Homo sapiens: one gene and its partners. The protein of the gene in region 1 purifies or fractionates together with the protein of each later gene. This does not show direct contact. Each region holds a gene or a part of one and is shown on either strand. Other genes may lie near its edges.

What was found.
Region 2: the proteins of SLC16A10 (region 1) and PLD1 purify together in Homo sapiens (affinity purification with mass spectrometry; one large-scale study listed by BioGRID and IntAct). This does not show direct contact.
Region 3: the proteins of SLC16A10 (region 1) and SLC9A1 purify together in Homo sapiens (affinity purification with mass spectrometry; one large-scale study listed by BioGRID and IntAct). This does not show direct contact.
Region 4: the proteins of SLC16A10 (region 1) and CEMIP2 purify together in Homo sapiens (affinity purification with mass spectrometry; one large-scale study listed by BioGRID and IntAct). This does not show direct contact.
Region 5: the proteins of SLC16A10 (region 1) and VANGL2 purify together in Homo sapiens (affinity purification with mass spectrometry; one large-scale study listed by BioGRID and IntAct). This does not show direct contact.
Region 6: the proteins of SLC16A10 (region 1) and NCR3LG1 purify together in Homo sapiens (affinity purification with mass spectrometry; one large-scale study listed by BioGRID and IntAct). This does not show direct contact.
Region 7: the proteins of SLC16A10 (region 1) and ZER1 purify together in Homo sapiens (affinity purification with mass spectrometry; one large-scale study listed by BioGRID and IntAct). This does not show direct contact.

The regions. Positions count from the first base shown.
Region 1 is NC_000006.12:111,226,953-111,230,577, forward strand, and holds part of SLC16A10 (monocarboxylate transporter 10), read left to right. Parts: 3' UTR 1-3,625. UniProt on the Homo sapiens protein: Sodium- and proton-independent thyroid hormones and aromatic acids transporter.
Region 2 is NC_000003.12:171,602,137-171,604,551, reverse strand, and holds part of PLD1 (phospholipase D1), read left to right. Parts: intron 1-1,249; coding exon 1,250-1,474; 3' UTR 1,475-2,415. UniProt on the Homo sapiens protein: Function as phospholipase selective for phosphatidylcholine. Implicated as a critical step in numerous cellular pathways, including signal transduction, membrane trafficking, and the regulation of mitosis.
Region 3 is NC_000001.11:27,100,660-27,103,192, reverse strand, and holds part of SLC9A1 (sodium/hydrogen exchanger 1), read left to right. Parts: intron 1-449; coding exon 450-520; intron 521-634; coding exon 635-808; intron 809-1,062; coding exon 1,063-1,177; intron 1,178-1,366; coding exon 1,367-1,468; intron 1,469-1,917; coding exon 1,918-1,990; intron 1,991-2,533. UniProt on the Homo sapiens protein: Electroneutral Na(+) /H(+) antiporter that extrudes Na(+) in exchange for external protons driven by the inward sodium ion chemical gradient, protecting cells from acidification that occurs from metabolism.
Region 4 is NC_000009.12:71,744,442-71,748,066, reverse strand, and holds part of CEMIP2 (cell surface hyaluronidase CEMIP2), read left to right. Parts: intron 1-1,471; exon of another isoform or gene 1,472-1,725; coding exon 1,726-1,866; intron 1,867-2,443; exon of another isoform or gene 2,444-2,487; coding exon 2,488-3,049; intron 3,050-3,625. UniProt on the Homo sapiens protein: Cell surface hyaluronidase that mediates the initial cleavage of extracellular high-molecular-weight hyaluronan into intermediate-size hyaluronan of approximately 10-5 kDa fragments.
Region 5 is NC_000001.11:160,421,007-160,424,631, reverse strand, and holds part of VANGL2 (vang-like protein 2), read right to left. Parts: intron 3,581-3,625; coding exon 3,445-3,580; intron 581-3,444; coding exon 349-580; intron 1-348. UniProt on the Homo sapiens protein: Involved in the control of early morphogenesis and patterning of both axial midline structures and the development of neural plate. Plays a role in the regulation of planar cell polarity, particularly in the orientation of stereociliary bundles in the cochlea.
Region 6 is NC_000011.10:17,358,291-17,361,915, forward strand, and holds part of NCR3LG1 (natural cytotoxicity triggering receptor 3 ligand 1 precursor), read left to right. Parts: intron 1-3,625. UniProt on the Homo sapiens protein: Triggers NCR3-dependent natural killer cell activation.
Region 7 is NC_000009.12:128,761,863-128,765,487, reverse strand, and holds part of ZER1 (protein zer-1 homolog), read left to right. Parts: intron 1-3,625. UniProt on the Homo sapiens protein: Serves as substrate adapter subunit in the E3 ubiquitin ligase complex ZYG11B-CUL2-Elongin BC. Acts to target substrates bearing N-terminal degrons for proteasomal degradation with the first four residues of substrates being the key recognition elements.

The DNA of each region.
Region 1 (3,625 bases):
GAGATTTCGTCTCTACAAAAAAAATTTAGCCAGCTTGGTGGCACATGCCTGTAGTCCCAGCTACTCAGGAGGCTGAGGCAAGAGGATTGCTTGAGCATAGCAGGTCAAGTCTGCAGTGAGCTGTGGTTGCACCACTGCACTCCAGCCTGGGTGACAAAATGAGACCTTGTCTACAAAAAGGAAAAAAAAATTTGTTCTGCTCTACTATACATGCTGACTTTTGTTGATAGCTTGGTCTAAAAAGACTGTCTAGAGCTGAATTTAAGAATGGTTCTGGAGCAAATAATAACAAGGTAGACAAGCAGGCCCTGGGCTCACTATAATTTCATAGCCACGACCTGTTTATTATTAGTTGGCAGAGATTAATGCTTTGTGTTATAAATATACTATAGAACAATAGGTCACGATTCTCAAGAACAAAGCCGAATGCTCGCAGTTAAGTGTGAAGCTTGCATAAGTGTCGGAACCACAATTATGGACCCACCATCAATGTGCATTTTATCAGATGACTCCTCCTGAGACAGTAAAGACTCCTGGAAAATTCATGACATCTTTGAATCACTCAGAAAAATCTTGAAACTCAGGACGTAGTTTACTTAGCTTGCCTTTTTTAAAATTATCAAATTTTAAATCGTAAACTTTGTCTTCACTTCCACACGTTCAAGGACACCTCTTTTAAAGTTCAGTGTTCCATACTAAAGGGGTGTAATCTTGCTTTCTGGGGAAATAAAATTCCCCATGGTACTATATTCCTGACAGATATAAAATAACATGAGGCTACCTCATTTTTGAAATAGATTTCAATATTTTTATTAGTAAGTTGGAAAGACAGTAGGAACAAAATGAAACCTTTCTAAGTACTTGATGACACCCACTTGATCATGACAATTCATCTACCTCCGCTTTCCGTGTCCAGCTGAAAGCCCAGCTGAGTCAACTCCTGCTTCATCAGAAGGGAGCTAATGGTGATTCTGGGATTAAAAAGCAAGGGGGGTGCAAATTGTTAGTGGGGTCAAAATATCAGTAAAATTTCTTAAGTGCTTTGTTCTGATAAACGGATGTAAAAGTAACAAAAAAGGAATAACAACTAATATGGCCTGTGGATCTGACAAAGAAAAACCTGAAGAAATTCAGAATCTAGATACACTTAGATTCTAAATTAGACACACTCAGATTCTAATGAACACTTAGAATGCTTCGCCAGTGGCTTTTCAAGTTACACTGGAAGCTTGATTATGAAAAAGTTTTGTTTTCATTGGCAAGAGGGTAGATGATCAGTGATGACAGATTGTACAGCTGTGCCCAAACCTGACAACTTACACATTAAACTCCTGTAAGAGACACTCCTTCCTAGTAGAACAAGGACTGGGACAATGAATTTTTGACTCACTGGAGTTTTTTAAAATGCTGTTCTTGAGTGTGGCAATAGTGTAGGAGTTAACCCAGTCTACCCAAAGAAGTTGCTTTGCCTTTCAATATGAGTGCTATAAAAAGAGTATTTTGGAGTTCAATGTCCCTAAACATGTATGCGATAGGAACTACCAATATAAAATAACACTTAGAACTCAAATTAGATTGGTAATACTATTTTGGAGCCTGTGATGTATGACTTTTATTCTTTACTAGATATTTTTCAGTATCCGTCATTAGAAGAGTCAGTTTGTTAAATATTTTAAATGTGTAAACACAAAACCTTTCTACTGTGATCTTCCCTAATGAGTCAAAGTATCTTTCATAATTCAGTCTATATTGAAATGTTATTTCAGGAATGGAGGGTTTGTTATTAATAGTGCTGGGCCGGGCACGGTGACTCATGCCTGTAATCCCAGCACTTTGGGAGGCCGAGACAGGCGAATCACCTGAGGTCAGATGTTGGAGACCAGCCTGACCAACATGGAGAAACCCCATCTCTACCAAAAATACAAAATTAGCCGGGCGTGGTGGCTCCATGCTGTAATCCCAGCTACTCGGGAGGCTGAGGCAGGAGAATTGCTTGAACCCAGGAGGTGGAGGTTGCAGTGAGCCAAGATTGCACCATAGCACTCCAGCCTGGGCAACAAGAGCAAAACTCTGTCTCAAAAAAAAAAAAAAAAAAAATAGTGCTGCATTTTGACCCTGGACTATGAACAGACTGTATAGTTGGTGCCTCTTTTTTTTCTACCAAAGATTATTAGATCAAGATTGGTGCTATACTTCATGTTCCTTTCAAAATTATTTTTCTTTTAAAAATATTAATATACAACACAATAGAAAATGTATACAGCCAGCAACGTTATGCATGTTGCATGTTATATACATGACTGAGGAAAAAAGCTCACCTATACAGTGATTATTGAGTTCCAGTATCTAGTTAGAGGTATGCAATTTTTGTTAACATATAAGACTTTAAATTACGAAACTCACAAGAAAATGATCACCAAATGAGAATGTTCTAATGAACACAACCTCCCAAGGTAATAATTTTAAAGAAAAAGTCCCTTGTCAATGTTTCTAGCACAAAGTGAGGGATTTAAATATATTCTGTAACTTTGAGGCAATGTGAAAAAGTTATATATAATAGCTTCCTATTGAGCTGGCTTATGTAGACATTTGGACATTTGAAACTATTTCGCAACTTTCAGGCTAAAATCAGAGTTTTGAGAGTCATCAATCTTAAAACATGGATAATGAGTTATTTGCACAGTTATATTTTTATAATTATTTGAAATTTATCACTGAAAGTATCATTGTTTGTCTTTCAGATTTAACATAAACAATAAGTACTGCGGCTGGGTCACTGTCAGCAAATCTCAGGTCTATGATTTATCAAGGGCTCTCAGCACCATCGTTGGTCTGATTGTGTAACACCTAAGTAAAATAACATATGGGTCTCCTTGGCCAGGCGCCGTGGCTCACACCTGTAATCCCAGCACTTTGGGAGGCCAAGGCAGGCGGATTGCTTGAGGCCAGGAGTTCGAGACATACGGGTCTCTTTAATGTTCTGTAGGTAGGATTCAGATGAATTGAGAATGACAGGTTTCTTTTTCTTTCTTTGTTTCTTTTTTTTTTTTTTTTTTGAGATGGAGTCTTGCTCTATTGCCAGGCTCCATATAGTGGCGCGATCTCAGCTCACTGCAACCTCCGCCTCCCGGGCTCAAGTGATTCTCGTGCCTCAGTCTTCTGAGTAGCTGGGACTACAGGTGCCCACTACCACACCGGCTAATTTTTGTATTTTTGGTAGAGATGGAGTTTCACCATGTTGGCCAGACTGGCCTTAAGTGATCCACCTGCCTCAGCCTCCCCAAGTGCTGGAATTACAGGCATGAGCCACCATGCCCGGCTAGAGAATGACAGGTTTCAGTTGAATTCTTCTCTTTTAAAAGACCCTGACTTAACTGTATTTTATGAGGATTTTATAAATGTAAATTAAGAAGACAATACACACTCTCATTTTCCTAATTAGAAAGACTATGCATTCACAATCCAGTACACTGGATTTGCTCTGGTAACTAATGATAACACTTTTCTACGTTAACATGAGTTATATTTGGCAGAGAGAATGGAAGCTTGCTAATCAGAAGTTACATTAGGGTGAGATTAAACATCACTCTAATAATAACTTCTGATGTAACTTAATGTGGTTTGA
Region 2 (2,415 bases), on another chromosome or scaffold:
AGCTGTGTTCTAGCCCAGACTAATTGACCATCTGTGAGAAGTTGGATAAGTCTGTGTTCTTCTTCATGACTTCCAGGGACAGACGTGAACCTCTTTAAAAAAAAAAATTAGGGAAAATACGCAATTTTTCTCTTAGAGCCCCTTCCAGCAGAGAAACTTATTATTCTTAATGAAACATGTCTACTGTCTGTATAACCTTGTTTCTTTTCTTTCTTTCCTTTTTTTTTTTTTTTTAATTGACATGGAGTCTCACCCTGTTGCCCAGGCTGGAGTGCAGTGGCATGATCTCGGCTCACTGCAATTTCTACCTCCTGGGTTCAAGTGATTCCCCTGCCTCAGCCTCCCGAGTAGCTGGGCCTACAGGTGCCCACCAGCACACCCAGCTAATTTTTGTATTATGATACAGGCTGGTCTTGAACTCCTGACCTCAAGTGATCCGCCTGCCTTGGCCTCTCAAAGTGCTAGGATTACAGGCATGACCCAATGCGCCTGACCCCTGTATAACCTTATTTCATCCTTATTTCATGGACCGAAGGCCATGATCAAATAGGTCATGTGCATAGAGTCATTAAAATGTAATTTTACAAATGCAGTGCACAGCCTTATTTGGGTCCTGGATTTGGGGGAAAACATCTATAAAAGACATTTTGGGGATAACAGGATAAATCTGAATATGAAGCATAACTTAAATGACATTATATAATTAATTTTCTTAGGTGTGAGAATAGTGCTGTGATTATATAGGCACATGTCCTTATTCTTAAGACATACCTGCAGAGAAGTATTCAGGGGTGAAGTGTTATGATATCCAAAACTCATTTTCAACCAGCAAAGTAAGTGTTACATATTAACAATTGATAATGCTATGTAAAGGTACAGATATGAGCCTCTTTCAAGAAAAGTTAGGGAAAATATAATATGCAATATTCCTCTTAGACCAGAAGCTCCAGTGAAATTCAGGGATGATTATTATCCAAAAAAAATTAACCTTAATGTGGGGTAACATTAGTGTAATTTCTTGCCACTAACCATGATTTTTTAAATGGAAGCAGATCTATCTGTTTGTAGCAGATCTATCTATTGTTGGTTATAAGATAACCAACTCTTAAATCAGGTCTGTGCTGTAACATAAGACTAATAATATGTTTCATACAACAGAGGTCTTGTCTGTTGGAATAATTATTTTCCATAAAGGCCATGTGCTCGCTTTTAAACTTTTCACTCATTTTTCTATTTATGCTCTAATCAGGTTTTCCGGTGCCTTCCCAATGATGAAGTACACAATTTAATTCAGCTGAGAGACTTTATAAACAAGCCCGTATTAGCTAAGGAAGATCCCATTCGAGCTGAGGAGGAACTGAAGAAGATCCGTGGATTTTTGGTGCAATTCCCCTTTTATTTCTTGTCTGAAGAAAGCCTACTGCCTTCTGTTGGGACCAAAGAGGCCATAGTGCCCATGGAGGTTTGGACTTAAGAGATATTCATTGGCAGCTCAAAGACTTCCACCCTGGAGACCACACTGCACACAGTGACTTCCTGGGGATGTCATAGCCAAAGCCAGGCCTGACGCATTCTCGTATCCAACCCAAGGACCTTTTGGAATGACTGGGGAGGGCTGCAGTCACATTGATGTAAGGACTGTAAACATCAGCAAGACTTTATAATTCCTTCTGCCTAACTTGTAAAAAGGGGGCTGCATTCTTGTTGGTAGCATGTACTCTGTTGAGTAAAACACATATTCAAATTCCGTATACCAAAATCCATTTCCTTTGTAACAAGAATTTACCAGTAACTGTGATCTAGGTTGCCAAAAGTTGTCTGAATCTCCTTATTCTTCTCTGATCTTCATTTATGCAGCCAATGTCTAGCTGGACCTGCCCTCATCTTGCAGTTCATACAGGCACTGTTTGAGAGATTGTTTATTATTAGATGTTGTAATGCTGCTTCAAGATTCTTCATGGTTACATGGGATGCCCCTGCTCATCTGGTCCTGAAGTAGTAACATTCACCCAAATGAGGATATAGTCATTATTCCTTTTCAGTCACTGTACGAACACGGCAGACTTTAGCCTACACAGTAGACTGTGTTAGGCACTTCTGGTAACATTGACACTGTATCTTGACACCACTAAGCAACAGGAAGGAATAAATTCCAATATTGAGACAGAGATTTATTTCATTTTGCTCCCAAAGGCACTGACAACATGAGTCCTTGTGATTAGGCCCACCTGATCAAATGTAAAAACATGCATGGGATATTTGATTACGTAACAACCAGCTAAAACTGAGAGCACACAGCCTTCGGAAACCCCCAAGGTGTCGAGGAGGATCAGATCCAGATAAGAGAAGATGATTCCTTCTAGTCCTGTAAAATTTCCTGTCATCCTTAGCTGCTGGGTTGATTGAAATTTGATC
Region 3 (2,533 bases), on another chromosome or scaffold:
CAGAAGGAGGAACAGGGAGATAGGGAGCAGCTGGGCCTCAAGTCTCTGCCCCCCATCAGCCCCTTCTCCCTGTGCCAGTGCCCAGGGGCTCCCTCTGCCCCAGGAGGCCGCCAGGGTCTAGCCATAGGAAGGTGTGGTGTGAGCAGCTGGGAGCCTGAGGAGGGGGCATCATGCCATCTCTGCCTCCATTTGAAACCTATCCCAGGCATAGGTCCCAGGTGGGATTAGAGAAGGGGGCTCAGCCGGACACAGGCAAGGCTTCGAGATACCCAGAGTCAGGGCCGCTGGGTTCGATGAGTGGAGTGTGGGCGCCACCTCCTGGCTGCTCATGGAACCACAGGGCTGGACCCAGCAGGGCTGCAGCTACGGGAGGGAGTGGGGCTAGTCAGAGGTCTTGGTAGGGAAGGCGCCCCACAGCGAGGCTTGACTTGGCCCTGGGCCCCTTTCAGTTCCTGGACCACCTTCTGACAGGCATCGAAGACATCTGTGGCCACTACGGTCACCACCACTGGAAGGACAAGTAGGTGGCAGGCCTGGTGGGCAGGCAGGGAGGGGCAGGCAAGGGTCTCCTGGGCCTGGGCATCTCCCCACTCCTGGAAGCTGGCGCCATCCGTCTCCCTCCTCCTCCCACCAGGCTCAACCGGTTTAATAAGAAATATGTGAAGAAGTGTCTGATAGCTGGCGAGCGCTCCAAGGAGCCCCAGCTCATTGCCTTCTACCACAAGATGGAGATGAAGCAGGCCATCGAGCTGGTGGAGAGCGGGGGCATGGGCAAGATCCCCTCTGCCGTCTCCACCGTCTCCATGCAGTGAGTGCTGGGGCAACCAGGCAGCTTCTGCTCCCACACACCGGCCCCTCAAGCCCGGTTGGAGGTGGCCACCTGGGGGGCGGGGTCTTCTGTTGTCCTGTTGGGGCGGACAAGAGAGCTGTGGGCTCGCACCAAGGACCTGAGGCTTTGGCGCCCACCTGGGTCATCCCTAGGGTGACTTCCTTCTGGCCAAACCTGGGAGGCACCAGGATCCCAAGAATCTTGGGGACCTAACCGATGCCCTATTGCCCCAGGAACATCCACCCCAAGTCCCTGCCTTCCGAGCGCATCCTGCCAGCACTGTCCAAGGACAAGGAGGAGGAGATCCGCAAAATCCTGAGGAACAACTTGCAGAAGACCAGGCAGCGGGTGAGGGCCTGCTCCCCAGCCCGACCCCCAGGGTACAGGAGCCCTTCAGCCCCTCTCTACGGCAGCCCTGCCCTGCCCGTGCCCCTCGGCACCCACCCCAGGACTGGCCCGGCCTCCAGCACTGCCCCCACCCCTCCATGAGCAGAGCCTTCCGGGGCCCGCACTGCCCTGACGCTGTCCCTCCCACAGCTGCGGTCCTACAACAGACACACGCTGGTGGCAGACCCCTACGAGGAAGCCTGGAACCAGATGCTGCTCCGGAGGCAGAAGGCCCGGCAGCTGGAGCAGAAGGTAGCCTCTGCCTTCCTCTGGGAATCTGTATCCCACCCCACTCGCCCAAGCTCCGCCACAGCCTCTAAGGAAATGTACCCATTCTAGGAACAGGGTTTGGCTTTCGAGGGGCTTTTAGCAGTGTAAGGGCATGGAGAGCCATGAGTTCTAAGCAAGGGATTGGCGTGGGGTTGTGGGGCATGGCCTGGGTTAGGGCAGTGGCAGGGGACAGAGGAATGGGTGGATTTAAGGCTGAGCAGTGTAGGTGTATTCAGGGAGGCTGTGACAGGAGCCTGGGATGAGCCCTTAGGAGCTCCTGAGGGGCCAGTACGGGTGCCCACACAGGCACAAGGGAGGGGGAGCAAGCGCCCTGCATATACGAAAGGTGGGGTGTGCACTGGCCGGGTTCTGTCCTGAGGGGCTCCCTCTGCCCAGCTGCCTGTGCTCACCCCGTCTGTCCTCTCTGTCAGATCAACAACTACCTGACGGTGCCAGCCCACAAGCTGGACTCACCCACCATGTCTCGGGCCCGCATCGGCTCAGGTAAGGGCCTGGCGAGGGGCCTCAGGACTGGGCACTCTGAGCTGCCACCTCCTGAGGATGGGGCTCCACAGGAACAGTCCTCAGCCACTGGGAGGACAGGCCTGGCCCTCGCTGACCTCAGGATCCCCTCCCAAGCCATGAGCTGCTTCTACGTCAGGGGCCATCCCTAGGGAGAGAGACGTTCCGGGCGAGGACTGTGTGGGGAGCTGGGAGAGCCACGGTGCCTGGCAGGAAGGCAGGGTATCTGCCCCATCGAGACCCCCAACACGTGTGGGGAACGTGAGGGCAGGGCCCCAGGGCAGACTGACTCAGGGAGGAGCCCCAGGCCTTGGCCTGTGGAGGGACACCTCTGGGAGCCCCTGTCAAAGGAGAGGGCCACAGTCTGAGGAAGAGAAGCTGTGGGGTGGAAGGTCGCAGAGGCCTGCTTCTGAGGCCTGTTGGGACCGGGACGGCTGTGCTCATGAGAAGGCCTGAAGGAGGCACTGACGCGGCCGAGTGGCACGTGCTGGGCCGGGCTCCAGAGCGGAACCCAGCTTGTGCCTT
Region 4 (3,625 bases), on another chromosome or scaffold:
CTAGATGTTGTATGGGAAGAGGGAGGTAGAAAAGTTAAGGAATCCTCATTATTAAGGCAAAACAAATTTAAGAGTTTTTTTGTTTCTTTGATGGGAAGAAAAGCTTAAAGATTGTTTTTAGTATAATAGTGATACTCATTGACTTATCAGAAGCATTAAATATCAACAGTTATGATACTGCTGTGAGAAAAACTAATTCCATGAAATAATTGCCAAGGATATAACTGGTGAGGCTAATTGTAGCTGTGGTTAATAAGAGAAAGCATAAACCTAGGGCATTGTGAGAGCTCAGAAACAGGAAGATGTTTGCATTAGTGTTATGCAAGTTCAAAATGAGGAATCATTTTTTTTTCTGTATAGAACAATATGTTTGTGTAGCACCCTACCTCTCTACTTTTTCTCTTGTTATTCCTAAACATGTACCTGCCACCTTAATGAAAGGAATTTCTTCCTATGGTTTTTCAAGCATATCTTGCTTATTCTTACCTTAGCTGAGTTTAAATAAAGCCACCTTGGAATTCTGAACAACCAAATGGACTACTTGGATCTCAAGGGATAATTGCATTACTAGTGTTCTCATGATCCTCTTATTTAAATACTGCCCATCCTTTGGTGTCCAGCTCTCAAGTCACCTGTTCATGAAGCTGCCTCAGTTACTCCAGCCCCATGCCTCCTTTGCCTGAGGTCTTTTGAACCTCGACTGACTACCATATTGTTCAGTGTTTCATTATTTCATACTTGGTGTTTTTTCCCTCCAAAGCTTGCATATAAACTCTGAGGAAATGTGAGCTGATTCTATGCTTTATAAATTTTAAAATATCTGGTACAGAGTGGATAAATTGATGCTCCACAAATACTTGGCCATAGGTTGATCAAAATTGAAGGCGTGATTTTTTTTCTCCCCTCTTCAAAATTATGGCGGACCTTAAAGTTTTCATACATTAAATAGCTATGGCTATTTTAATTAAATACTGTTATATTTTTGTTATTATAATACCTATTCAAGAGGCAAGTTCTAATTCCAGTAAAGGAACACTACAAGTCAATAATCTCATTTTCTAAAAGGGGAAACTTGCGTATCACTCAGCTTGCTAAGTAATCTTTGGTTTCTCTAACCTGTAATTTCCTCATCTCTGAAAATGAGAAGTTATGTCTTTAGCCACTTGCCTCTTTCATTTTGTTGGGAGAGTGCACATGGCTGAAGATAGTGATGTTTCTCAGTCTTGGAGAGAGGTGCTATCAGTACTTACTTCATCATTCACTGTGTGCAAGAAGGAACTTGTGAAGACCTGATCAATGTATTATTTAGCAATTTTCATTTTTGATTTACCAGGATGTTGTGAACACATTTCTTTTCTAAAACAGCTTTCTAGTGTGAATCCCAAGAGAATGTATAATTTTGCCTCTTACTATTGGTTTATTTCCAGAGTAGATGATTCAGGGAAACTTTTTTTTTTTTTTTTTTTTTTTGGTGAAGTTTGTCCTGAACTAGATGCTAGCAATTTAGTTTTGTGGTAAAACTTTAAAATGGAAATGTGATGACAAATTAAAGGGTAAGATGGTTCTCTGCTGGTGGGAAGGCGTGGGATTTCCATTCTAATGGCAGGAAATCAACATATGTTAGCACATTTTTTGCAGATCTGCAGTAAATAATGGTAGTGCTTAGATTCGGCTATATTATTCCTGCATTTTAATGGGTTGGATGGAATATCAATGTGTTTATAGAAAATTGCCCAGATCAAAATCCTCGTCTCAGGAATTGGGATCCAGGACAAGATTCTGCAAAGCAAGTTGTTATCAAGGAGGGAGATATGCTCCGTCTGACCTCAGACGCCACCGTGCATTCTATAGTCATTCAGGATGGAGGTAGGTAATGGTTCCTGCCTATGGGAACTGCAAGGTTGCTCTTTAATGTGGGGGATATTTGATGTTCCTTATGTAGAAGACTATTTTTAGGCAGAATAGGCTTTAGTTTGTGGTGTCACTCTAACCATGGAGATTTGGAAAGATCATGAGATAAAACCAGAGAATTTATCCAGAGATAAAAAACATAGAATTTAAGAGCTTAGACCTTAGGTATCACTCAAATCAAGACCCCTGATTTATAGACAAGGAAACAGTTCCAGAGAGGTGATCTCTCAGAGCTAAATTTTTGTCACAATTCTGAGAGTGATTTTGTCACAATTCTGAGAGTTAACATGAGTAAACATATACAAAAATAAGATTCAGATTTGTAGACTCTTAGATATTTTTAAGAGAAATGATTTAACCTCTAAAGTGAGTAGGTTGAAATTCACAGTCATGGGCATTGAGAGTATATTAAGATATGAACTCTTCATTTTTCCCTTTAGTTTTCTAAGCAGATTCTTAGCGAATTCTTTTTTCCGACCTAATTGCGGAAGTGTATTTAACTTAAGGTGAAATCTATTTCCTTGTATCTCAGAAAGATGATTTAGAAGTTGGCTTACAGGGTGGTGTTCCCTGCAGGACTGCTTGTATTTGGGGACAATAAAGATGGATCCAGAAATATTACTTTGAGGACTCATTACATCCTGATCCAGGATGGTGGGGCGCTTCATATTGGAGCAGAAAAATGCCGCTATAAATCCAAAGCGACAATTACCTTGTATGGCAAGTCAGATGAAGGTGAAAGTATGCCAACATTTGGCAAAAAGTTTATTGGTGTGGAAGCTGGCGGGACACTGGAGTTACATGGGGCACGGAAGGCATCGTGGACGTTGTTGGCAAGGACCCTGAATTCCTCAGGCTTGCCCTTTGGGTCCTATACCTTTGAAAAGGACTTTTCCCGGGGCCTCAATGTGAGGGTCATTGACCAAGACACGGCCAAAATTTTGGAAAGTGAGAGATTTGATACCCATGAATACCGCAATGAGAGCAGGCGGCTTCAGGAGTTTCTGAGATTCCAGGATCCAGGTCGGATTGTTGCCATAGCTGTCGGGGATTCAGCCGCTAAAAGTCTCTTACAAGGAACCATCCAGATGATCCAGGAACGGTTGGGAAGTGAACTGATCCAAGGACTGGGCTACAGGTAGGCATACCTTCTTCCCAGATCCCTATCAGAGTCCGTGTCTGTGTGAGAGGAGAGTGAGGGTGGGGAAAGGAGCCACAGCCACAGCATGACTCAGGCATCAGAAGGGCCACTCTACCATTTGCATGTCTGGTAGCTTTGAGACATGGGGCTGGAGGATAGGACACCACATACAAAAGCTATTTTCATTGGCTTTGGTTTACAAAGCCCTTTGTGAACTGGAGTGCCAGACTTGTGAAAAGTTGAGAGCAGAAGTGTGGTACTGAAAAACAGTCAGGCAGTTTAAGGACAATTTGCCTCTGAAGATACTTCTTCCTTTCGTTACCTTCTGAAGATCATATGAAACTCAGGCTAATTGAGGCAACTTAATGAGTTTAAAGGTTAGGGCAGAATTTCATGCTAAGTTCTAAACCTGTCTTAAAAGGCTGAGGGGGTAGAATATGCAGTTTTTCTTTTTCTTTTTCTTTTTTCGGACTCCTTTGCAGGCTGATTGGAATCTGCATGTTTGATTGGCACAGGTCTATGGACCCCTGGCATATATGAGGAAGGAAAAAGTTAAAGGGCTAGGAAATTCAT
Region 5 (3,625 bases), on another chromosome or scaffold:
AAATGACACAAAGCCAAGACCAGCTAGTGGAGGTGAAGAGGGTAATGGAGGTGAAAGTGGGCCTTTGGATCTGGTAATTCCGGAGCCCTCATAGAGATGAGAAATAAGTCTCAGCCATCCCCAAAATGGTCCTGAGGACTCCCTTCTCCTCATCTACCTAAAGACTTCACCCCACACAGATGGGGCAGGTGGAATAGGAATGAGAGAGAAGATTATAAAAAGGAGGTGGTGAGGAGAGAGAAATGAGGTGGACAGTGAGGAAAGTAGTGAGAGAATAAGGGAAAATGAAGGTGGGAAAGAAGAGGAGCTGGGGAAGGAGGAAGGATGCTGGCAGCAGGGCAGGCCTACCTTGGGCGTCATGTCATGCGTGATGCAGAATTCAAGGTGCTGCAGGATGCTCTCCATGGTGTGGTAGGGCTGCTGCTTGGTGGTCCGAAGGTACTTCTGCATGGCACGGGCCATGGATGCAAAGATGGCTTGGGCTGCCTCCCGGGGGTCCATCACCTCCCTGGGGTTTTTCTGCTCCTCTTCCTGCAGCCGCTTAATGTGAGTGAAGGCCTCCTCCACCGCCACTACAAGCCTAGGGGACAGGAGGGGACTGGGCCAGATGCCCACCTCTCTTTCCCCCACCCCACCCCTCTCCCCTAGCTCCAACACTCCAGCAGCCTGAATGAGGTCAGGCCTTTGTGCTCACCCAAAGTAATACAAAGCCAGAGGCAATAGTGCCTTTCTGCCACTGGGAACAGTAAACAGCCACAGAGTTCAGTGGGCCCAGCCCAGGGACTCAGAGGGCAAACCTAGTGTCAAACCCAGAGAGACAACTAGGAACTATGCTATAGGAAAGACAAAGCATTCCACCAAACTTTAAGGAAAACCTTCTTAAATAAGACCCCCAAATCATACTTCATTGGCTCAACAATTAATAGATATGATTACATCAAAATGACAGATTTCTGTTCAACCATGACAGCATGGGCAACATTAACTGACATCTGATGGAGCTGGGGAAAATATACACATCTAAAACCAACAAGGGATTCAGATCTAGAACATGCAAAGAATTTGCTACAATTTCTATCAAGAAGAAAAAGACAGGAAACCTAGAGAAAAAAGGGCAAAGGAGGTGAACAGAAAATTCACAAGAGGACTGAAAGGCTAAAAGATATACGAAGTAGTTACTGGCTAGCAATTAGAGAGATGCAAATGAAAATGTTAGTAAAATATTACTTTTCCATCAAAATGGAAAAAAGAAAGAAGGTAACTATAAACCAAATATTGGATAGGATGTTGGGAGTATTCCATGAACTACTATGCAGCAAAAAGATGCAACAAACTAGATGTACAGACAACTTGGATGAATCTCAAAAACACAGTGTTAAGGAGGAAGCAGGAAAAAAAAATCCATTTACATTAAAAGCATATAGATGGCCGGGTGTGGTGGCTCATGCCTATAATCCCAGCACTTTGGGAGGGTGAGACAGGTGGATCACCTGAGGTCAGGAGTTCAAGACCAGCCTGGCCAACATGGCAAAACCCCATCTTTACTAAAAATACAAAAATTAGCTGGGCATGCTGGTGTGCATCTGTAATCCCAGCTACTGGGGAGGCTGAGGCAGGAAAATTACTTGAACCCAGGAGGCGGAGGTTGCAGTGAGCTGAGATCATGCCACTGCACTCCAGCCTGGGGGACAGAGCAAGACTCCATCTCAATAAAAAAAAAAAAAAAAGCATACATACAGACACACACACCAACACCAACAAAGATCACTACACTAACACTAACTTTGCACAAGGATACATATAGCTTTTAAGGAAGTCAAACACACTCAACAGGATGCCTAAAATGTGGCGCTGGAGTGAAAGTGGGAACTGGAGGAAAAGAAGAAACAGAATAAAGAACCATGAAAAACTCTATAATGACAATATGTTAGAAGCTGAAAAGAGCAATTAATGCAATTATCTGCACTTCAAGTCCAAAAACCAAAATAAAAGCCCCCTGGCCTAAGAGCAGGACCAGCCTGAAGTGACAGGACAAAGAAAGAAAGTGAGGCCTTCTATGCAGAACCCAGGAACCTGAGTCATTTCAGATGGGACTCTGGGTATATAGGTGTGGATCTGTGTATGTCTATCATTTCTTCCTTTATTCTCTTGCTTCCCCTACATTTCTCAGTAAATTCCCTTTGAAAAGATCCTTTTATCTCAGGTAAACAAAGGAAAAAGTTTGCTCCTGGTTAAAAGCAAGGTAATGGGGAAAGGAAAGAGTCCTCTATGTGCCAAAAATGGTGGTGGCAGTACAGGAGATTGGATGACCCTGGTCAGGGCAGAAGATAAAGGGGTAGGGACATCACTGGTTTCCTTCCCAAGTCTCAGGCCATTTCCAAGACAATTAGAGACAGGTTGGAATGCCACAGAAATGGAGTTGGTGATCTTTGTTCTACTACAGGGGATGCCAGCCTCAAATAGGAACAAGGTAAGGGCTACCTCTTGCCCTTGAAGCCTGGAGTTCATGTGGGAGATGGGGCGGAGGCCAGGTGCGTGGTCAAGTCCTGAGGCACTCTGCTCCTCCCTCAGGGAACTCCCGACAGACCAAGATGGAACCCGGCAGAGTAGGCACCAAGTAAGATTCTTCAGGGTTGACTAAATTCACTTAATAATATGAATAGGGAAAGGGAGAAGCTAGGATGGCATTTAAGAATTTACCAAAATATAGGCAATAAAACGTCATTTTTTGAAGGCAACAAAAGCACCATCTGGTGAGTCCTCTCAAGATCTACTGGCAGGCAGGCTAGTCTAGCCTGAGTCCATGCTGTTGCAGGTAAAGCTCACATCCCTTTATTGGGTCCCTACCCCACTGTGGCAGGCAGAATTCAAAGATACCCTCCACTTCTACCAGACTCCCATCCCCTCATTAGACAACAATCTTGGTACATTTTGCAGATGTAATTAATGTGCCAAGTCAGTGGCCTTAAAAGAAGACTGTCCTTTAGGGCCTGATCTCATCACATGAGCTCTTTAAAATCAGCATTATCTCCAGCTGGTGGCAGAGGTCAGAGACCTGTTTCTGCTGGAAAAAAAAGTGCACTACCATCATGTAAACTGCCTATGGGGCTATGTGACAAGGCACTGAATTCTCCCCATAATAATGAGCTTGAAAGAGAAAGCATAGGCTCAGATGAGAGTCCTCTTGATTTCAGCCTGTGAGGCCTGAGCACAGCCTCCAGCCAGCCTGCACCTGACCCATGGAACTGGGAGATAATAAATGTGTGCTGTTTCACAGCTGCTAAGTTTATGGTAATCTGTTAGGGCAGCAACGGAAAACAAGCACACACCCCCAACTCATGTCATCATTGCCCTATATTTCCAGCAGTTACAGAAGTTCCTTGGTCTTCCTCTCCCCATTCACCCAACAAGCACCTCCTCTCCTCTTCTCCCCCAGGGACCCACCTGGCCCTCCTCTTGCGCACCCTTCGCTCATGCTCAGCCTCCTCATAGTAGTACTCATTGTGACTGTTGTCCCGCCTCCGAGCTGCCGCTGCAATCACAGCCCGAGACTGGCCAGTGGAGTTGTTGGTGCTGTTTTCTGCACAGGAACAGGATAGAGGAGATGGTCACATCAGAGTGTGGC
Region 6 (3,625 bases), on another chromosome or scaffold:
TATGTTCTTAGGCTCCTTTTTGCTGTGACAATTTCTTAGACCTTATTTTTGATGTCCTTGACAGTTTGGTGAGGGTATTGGTCAGGTATATTGCAGGATGTCACTAAGTTAGGATTTGTCTGCTGTTTTCCTCATAATTGGACTTGGGGTTATGGGTTTTTGGAGGAACATCGCAGAGGTAAACTGCCATTTTCATCACATCAAATCACATGACTTATGACTGTTGATGTTGACCTTGACCATCTAGTTGAAGTAGTGTTTGTCTGGTTTCTCTACTGAAAAGTTACTCTTCCTCCTATTTTCATACTGTACTCTTTGAAAGGAAGTCACTCTGTGCAGCCCACACTTAAGGTTGGGGGTTACTTATGTTCTTCCTCCTTGGAGGTGGAGTATCTACATAATTTTTTTAAGAATTCTTCTGCATGGGAGATTTATCTCTTTTCTCCCATTTATGACTTTATTCAATCATTGATATCAATAAGGACTCAAGGATATTTATTTTATACTTTGTGTTATAATGCAATACTACTTTATTTTTTCTCAAATTTTTCCAGCTTTGGCCACGGGGAGCTCATTCACTTGGCTCTTGTGTCACATTGACATACCCCAATCATTGTAAGATTTTGTTTTGTTTTATTATTTTATTTTTTGTTTTATTTAATTTTTGGCAAATTCATATCAAGAATTTTGTTTGATTTTAAGCACTTTTTACATTTTGGCACTATAAGATGCTCCAGACTCATCTTGTATATTTCCTCTCTTGTATATTTCCTGGTTCTAGTCCTAGAACCAACCAATACTCCAAGAAACCTTGGTTCCTTTTATTGGAAAGTGATCTTAGAAACCAAGACCTGGACAGTAAGTGTACTTTTTGCTGCTGAGGTATCATTGATTCTAGACCCTCTCAGCCAACAGAGCAAAGAAATACATGTATGCATACTAACCTCTGCATATACACATATCTACAAATATTTCTATGTGTAACCATCTGTACCTATATTACATTAAACATTTGTTCTTACTGATGTCTCCAACTTTAGTCCATCACCACATAGATCATTCTAGTTTCCTTCTCTTGCTCATCTGTAAACTCCCACTCCAACAGTGAGAAACCTGTACCCACCATCCTCTGTTTATTGAATTAATTATTAACCTGTACTCCGATAAGAAACAACTTTATCTACTAGAGTACAGTGCTTTTTGGCAATTCCTTTTTTTTTTTTTTTTGAGATTTTTTTTTTGAGACAGTCTTGCTCTGTTGCCCAGGCCGGAGTGCAGTGGTGTGACCTTGGCTTACTGCAACCTCCACCTCCCAGGTTTAAGCGATTCTCCTGCCTTAGCCTCCCAGGTAACTAGGATTACAGGTGCCCGCCACCACGCCTGGCTAATTTTTGTATTTTTAGTAGAGATGGGGTCTCACCATGTTGGCCAGGCTGGTCTTGAACTCCTGACCTCAGATGATCTGCCCACCTCAGCTTCCCAAAGTACTGGGATTACAGGCATGAACCACCATACCCAGCCCAGATTTTAGCCATTTTAATAAGTATATAGTGGTATCTCATTTGTTGTTTTAATTAGCAGTTCCCTAATGATATAATGTTGGACATCTTTTCATATTCTTACTTGCCATTCGTATGTCTTCTTTTTTTGTGTGTTCATTGGTTGTCCAGGCTGGAGTGCAGTGGTGTGATTACAGCTCACTTCCCAGGCTCAGGTGATTCTCCCAGGCTTCAGCCTCCCAAGTAGCTAGGACTACAGGTGCACATCACCATGCCTGGCTAATTTTTGTATTTTTTGTAGAGATAGGGTTTTGCTGTGTTGCCCAGGCTGGTCTTGAACTCCTGGGCTCAAATGATCTGCGTGTCTCGGCCTCCCAAAGTACTGGGAATTGTATGTCTTCTTTGATGAGATGTTTGTTCAGATTGTTTGCCTATTTTTTAACTGGGCTCATTTTTTAAATTGTTGTGTTTTAAGAGTCCTTTGTACATTCTGGATACAAGCCTTTATCAGATAGATGTCTCACAGATATTTTCTCACAGTCTGTGGCTTGTCTTTTCATTCTCTTAACAATGTCTTTTGTAGAGCAGAAGTTCTTAATTTTAAAAAGTCGAACTTACTACATTTTTCTTTCATGGATCATGCTCTTAACATTGTGTCCTAAAGCTCATCACCAAACCCAAGGCTACCTAGATTTTCTCCTGTGTTATCATCTAGAAGGTTTATAGTTTTACCATTGACATTTAGGTCTATGATGCAGTTTACTTTAATTTTTGTGAAAAGTGTAAGGTTTGTGTCTATATTCTATATGTATTTTTTTTTTTTTTGCATATGAACACCTAATTGTTCCAGCATCATTTGTTGAAAAGACTGTCCTTTCTCCATTGAATTGCCTTTGCTTCTTTGTCAAAGATCAGTTGAATATATTTGTGTGGGTCCATTTCTGGGCTTTCTATTCAGTTTCTTTTCTTTTTCTTTTTTTCTTTTAATACAGGCTGGAGTACAGTGACACAATCTTGGCTCACTGCAGCCTCTGCCTCCTGGGCCCTGGCAATCCTACCATCTCAGCTTTCCGAGTAGCTTGTGCTACAGGCTCGCGCCACCGCTCCCAGCCAATTTTTGTATTTTTGTAGAGATAGAGTTTCGCCGTGTAGCCCAGGCTGGTCTGGAACTTCTGAGCTCGAGTGATCTCCCCCGTCTCAGCCTCCCAAAGTGTTGGGATTATAGGTGTGAGCCACCACACCCTGCCCTATTCAGTTTCATTGATCTCCCTCTTCTTTCCCCAGTACCACACTATCTTGATTATTGTATTTTAGTAGTAAGTCTGGAAGTCAGGTAGTGTTAGTCCCTCATTTTTGTTGCCTTTCTTCAGTATAGTGTTAGCTATCTGGGTTTTTTCTTTCCATACAAATTTGAGAATCTGTTGATATCTGCAAAATGGCTTTCCGGGATTTTGACTGGGATTGCATTGAATCTAGAGATCAAGTTGGGAAAAATTGACATTTTTTTTTTTTTTTTGAGACAGAGTCTCGCTGTGTTGCCCAGGCTGGAGTGCAGTGGTACAATCTCAGCTCATTGCAACCTCTGCCTCCTGGGTTCAAGCAATTCTCCTACCTCAGCCTCCCGAGTAGCTGGGATTACGGGCATGCGCCACCACGCCTGGCTAATTTTTGTATTTTTAGTAGAGACGGGTCACCAAGTTGGCCAGGCTGGTCTCAAACACCTGACCTCAAATGATCCACCAGCTTCGGCCTCCCAAAGTGCTGGGATTACAGATGTGAGCCACCACACCTGGCCAATGGTATTATATTTTTAATTTCAAATTCCAGTTGCTCAATTGTTCATTCCTGTCAAATAATTGATTTTTGCTTATTAACTTTGTATCCTGCAACTTGCTTTAATCACTTATTCATTCTAGGGATTTTTTTGTTTTTGTTTTTGTTTTTGTTTTTGGCCAAGTCTTGAGATTTTTCTACATAAATCAGGCTGTCTGTTAAAAATACAGTTTTATTTCTTCCATTATTTTATTTTATTTTTTACAGAGGTGAGGTCTCACTATGTTGCCCAGGCTGGTTTTGAACTCCTGAGCTCAAGTGATCCCCCTGCCTTGGCCTCCCAAAGTGCTGGG
Region 7 (3,625 bases), on another chromosome or scaffold:
CGGGGGTCTGCTTTAGGTTTGCATCCCACTCTCATCAGTTTTGTGATCTCAGGCAAGCTTCTGCTTAGTTGTGTATGCGTCAGTATCTTCATCAGAAAATGGGGTAATAATCTCTATCTTGCAGTACTAGAGTAAGGGAATTCCAGCCACAGCAAACCTTTGTTCTATTAAACACCAGGCATAAATTGGGCACCGAAGTCAGACACCAAGGATACAGGTGCGTGCGCGCTTGCGCACGTGTGTGTGTGTGTGTGTGTGTGTGTGTGTGTGTGTGTACATGTGCATGGATGCAGGCATGCAAGCAAGCATACAGCTTCTGTCCTCCCAGAGCTCACAGGCAGTAGGAGGGTGTCAGTTGACAAATTGTTATGTAAATGATTAATTAGTTGCAAGTACAGGGTACTAGGAAATATTTTGTCGGTTGAGTAAGAGACTCGAGGGAGTAAAGCCTGTAAGGAGCTTAGGACCACATCTGGAAGCAGCCAACATGGACGTGGTATGGCGGTGCCTTCTGCTGCTGCTGCTGCTGGTGCTGTTTTTCTCTCTCTTCTCTCCCACTTCCTTCATTCCCCAGGATGTCGAATGTTCATGATAGACCTAGTATTAGAGAACATGCAAGAAAAGGGATGGAGAAAGACACAGGGTTCTCCCAGTGTGGTGGTCGGTCATAACCAGAGCTCCCTCTGTCCTCAGTTGCTGGAATTCCAGATGGCCTGTGACTGCCCTGAGAATGACAATCCCTAAGGAATGGAGTAGGTAGAGTGGAGTAGGTAGAGATGGCTGCCTCTGGCAGGTGCCAGGCCCGCAGCTGGATGGGTCTCAGGGCATGGTAGCCCCGGGGCCCTTCAGTCTCTGTGCCAGGATGTAAGATGGCTGCTTCCTCTTCCAGCTCATTCCAGCCCTGAGTGGCAAGGTCAACACTGCTAAGGGGAGGCTAGCAGATGGCGCCATCTACCTGGCTTATGTTTTGGGGGCTTTTGGTGACCGTGACAACTGACGTGGTGGTGTTTCTTCCACTTGGGGAGCATGGTAAGGGCAGAGCAGCTGCCTAGGTAACTGGGCTCAGACCTGCAGAAAAGGCAAAACCCCAGTGGCTCTCCCTCATTCAGAGCCTCCGAGCCAAGAGGCATCATTTGCAGCCACTGGGCGCCCAGCAGTGTCCTGAGTGCAGCAAGCAGGGAGAATGCGAGAGTGTACTATACCTCCCAGGCCTCGTGCAGACCTCTGATGGCGAGTACTTTGTCATTCCTTCCACAGGCCTTTGTTGAAACCTCACCTTGTGGCAGGCCCCACATTGAGTGTTCAGTGCTTCCTTTGTTCATTTAGCAAATAGTCATGGACCTGGGCCCGTAGTGCCAACGTCCCATGCACCCCCTCTCCTTGCAGCTTAGGTACTTCTTTGCTTCCTCCCAAAGCGCCTTCCCCTTCTCTCCCCTCCACCAGAGTTAACTAGGACTTATCTTTTGGGTCCCAGCTGAAATGTCACTTCTTTTTTTTTTTTTGATGGAGTTTTGCTCTTATTGCCCAGGCTAGAGTGCAATGGTGTGATCTTGGCTCACTGCAACCTCCGCCTCCCGGGTTCAAGCAATTCTCCTGCCTCAGCCTCCCGAGTAGCTGGGATTACAGGCGTGCGCCACCAGCCCAGCTTATTTTTGTATTTTTAGTAGAGACGGAGTTTCACCATGTTGGCCAGGCTGGTCTCGAACTCCTGACCTCAGGTGATCCACCTACCTCAGTCTCCCAAAGTTTTGGGATTACAGGTGTGAGCCACTGCACCTGGCCTGAAATGTCACTTCTAAGGATACCTGCTCTGACTCCCCAGTCCAGGGCAAGTCCCCTGATTGGGCATCCAGAGCCCCAGGCCCCTTCTCCTGCAAGACACTGGTCCCAGTTACGCGACAGGCGCTTATGGGCCCTGTAGGTGGATCTGTCTCCCTCCGGAGCCAGTACGCTCCATGTGGTCAAGGACCTTGTCCGGCTCGCTCACCAAGGACCCCCAGTGCTCAGCAGGGACTGAGTGAGCAGGTCCAGGGAGGTGATACCAAACAAGACAGCCTGGTTTTGCCCTCATGGACCTGGCCATCCATCAAGGATGCTGAATCATCAAAGCCACATCGTACCAAGTGTTCATTGCTGTGGTAGATCGGGCCTGTGGGGGGACTCAGCAGGCACACCCTGGTGGGTTAAGCATGGCTTCCCAGAGGAAGTAACTTTGACACTGGGACCATAGGTATCAGCTACGTGAAAGGAGAGTTCAAAGATCATGTGGGCTGGAGTGGCCAGGAGATACTTCCTGGAGGAAGGACATGGAGTGTATTTGGGTAGGGGAGGGGAGAAGGCAGTATTTAAATTAGAAAGTGCAGTAATTAGTTGAATTTGGATGGTCCTGGTTGAAAGAGAACAGACTGGGCAAAGGTCTGAAGGTGACCTGTGCCGAGGGCCTTTTGCCAGGACAGTGAATGATGAGGCCAGGCTGGCTGGAGTAGGGGGGCAGTGGGGACCAAGTAGGCCAGAAAGCTGGCTGTAATTCCGGTGGGCTTGAAAAGAGTTGCTTTCCAAGAGTGGGGACTCTCTGCCAGCAGTGCTCCCTCTGGTTCCAGTTTCCCAGGCAAGAGAGGCTGCTGGGCTCTTAAAGATCTTGAAGCAAATGAAGGCAAAGGAAGGCCATGCCCGGGGCCCAGGCATCCTGGCTTTTGTGCCTTCCCTCGAGGGTGCCATGCTGCCAGTGGGACAGCTGACACAATGAGCCTTGTTGTGGGAGACCCAGGCCGGGGAGCACAGGCCCGGAGCTGGGAGCCAGGGCAGATGAGGTAGGAGAAGGTAATGATTATAACAACAACATAATAACGGTTGTCTTTATTGAGCAATGACTACATGCCAGACACCGTTCTAAGCCCTTTTGATATTATTCCATGGAATCTTCACACCGTGCTGGGGATGAGGTATTGTGCTGCTTCTATTTTAGAGGAAAAGTGACTGAGGCACAGAGAGGTGGAGACACTTGCCCAAGTTTGTCTCCTCGTGAGCAGCAAGGCTGAAATGTGAGCTATGCCTGCCTGAATCCACAGCCCATCCACACACAGTCCCCAGTAGACAGTGGTGCCACAGTTGAACTCAGAACTGGCTGATTCCAAAGCCCAGTGTGCCCTGTGGCTTCCCGCTGGATTTCCTGAGCAGTCTGGAAGGTTTACAAATGGGCACAGAGGGAGGCTCCCAGAAGCTGGGACAATGCTGGGCCCCAGAACTCCAGAACCCTCTAAGTCAGGGGTGTCCAATCTTTTAGCTTCCCTGGGCCACACTGGAAAAGGAACTGTCTTGGGCGACACGTAAAATACACCAACACTAACAACAGCAGATGAGCTAAAAAAAAAAAAAAGTCCATAAATGTCATAATGTTTTAAGAAAGTTTACAAATTTGTGTTGGGCTGCATTCAAAGCTGTCCTGGGCCACATGCAGCCCATGGACCACAGGTTGGACAAGCTTGCTCTAAGAGATGTGAGGGATTCCACGAGACCAGGTTCCAGTCTAGTTTACACAGCTCCCTCTGTTTGACCTTGAGTTTCCTCCTCTATAAGATGGGGTCAGCCGGGCGCGGTGGCTCACGCCTGTAATCCCAACATTTTG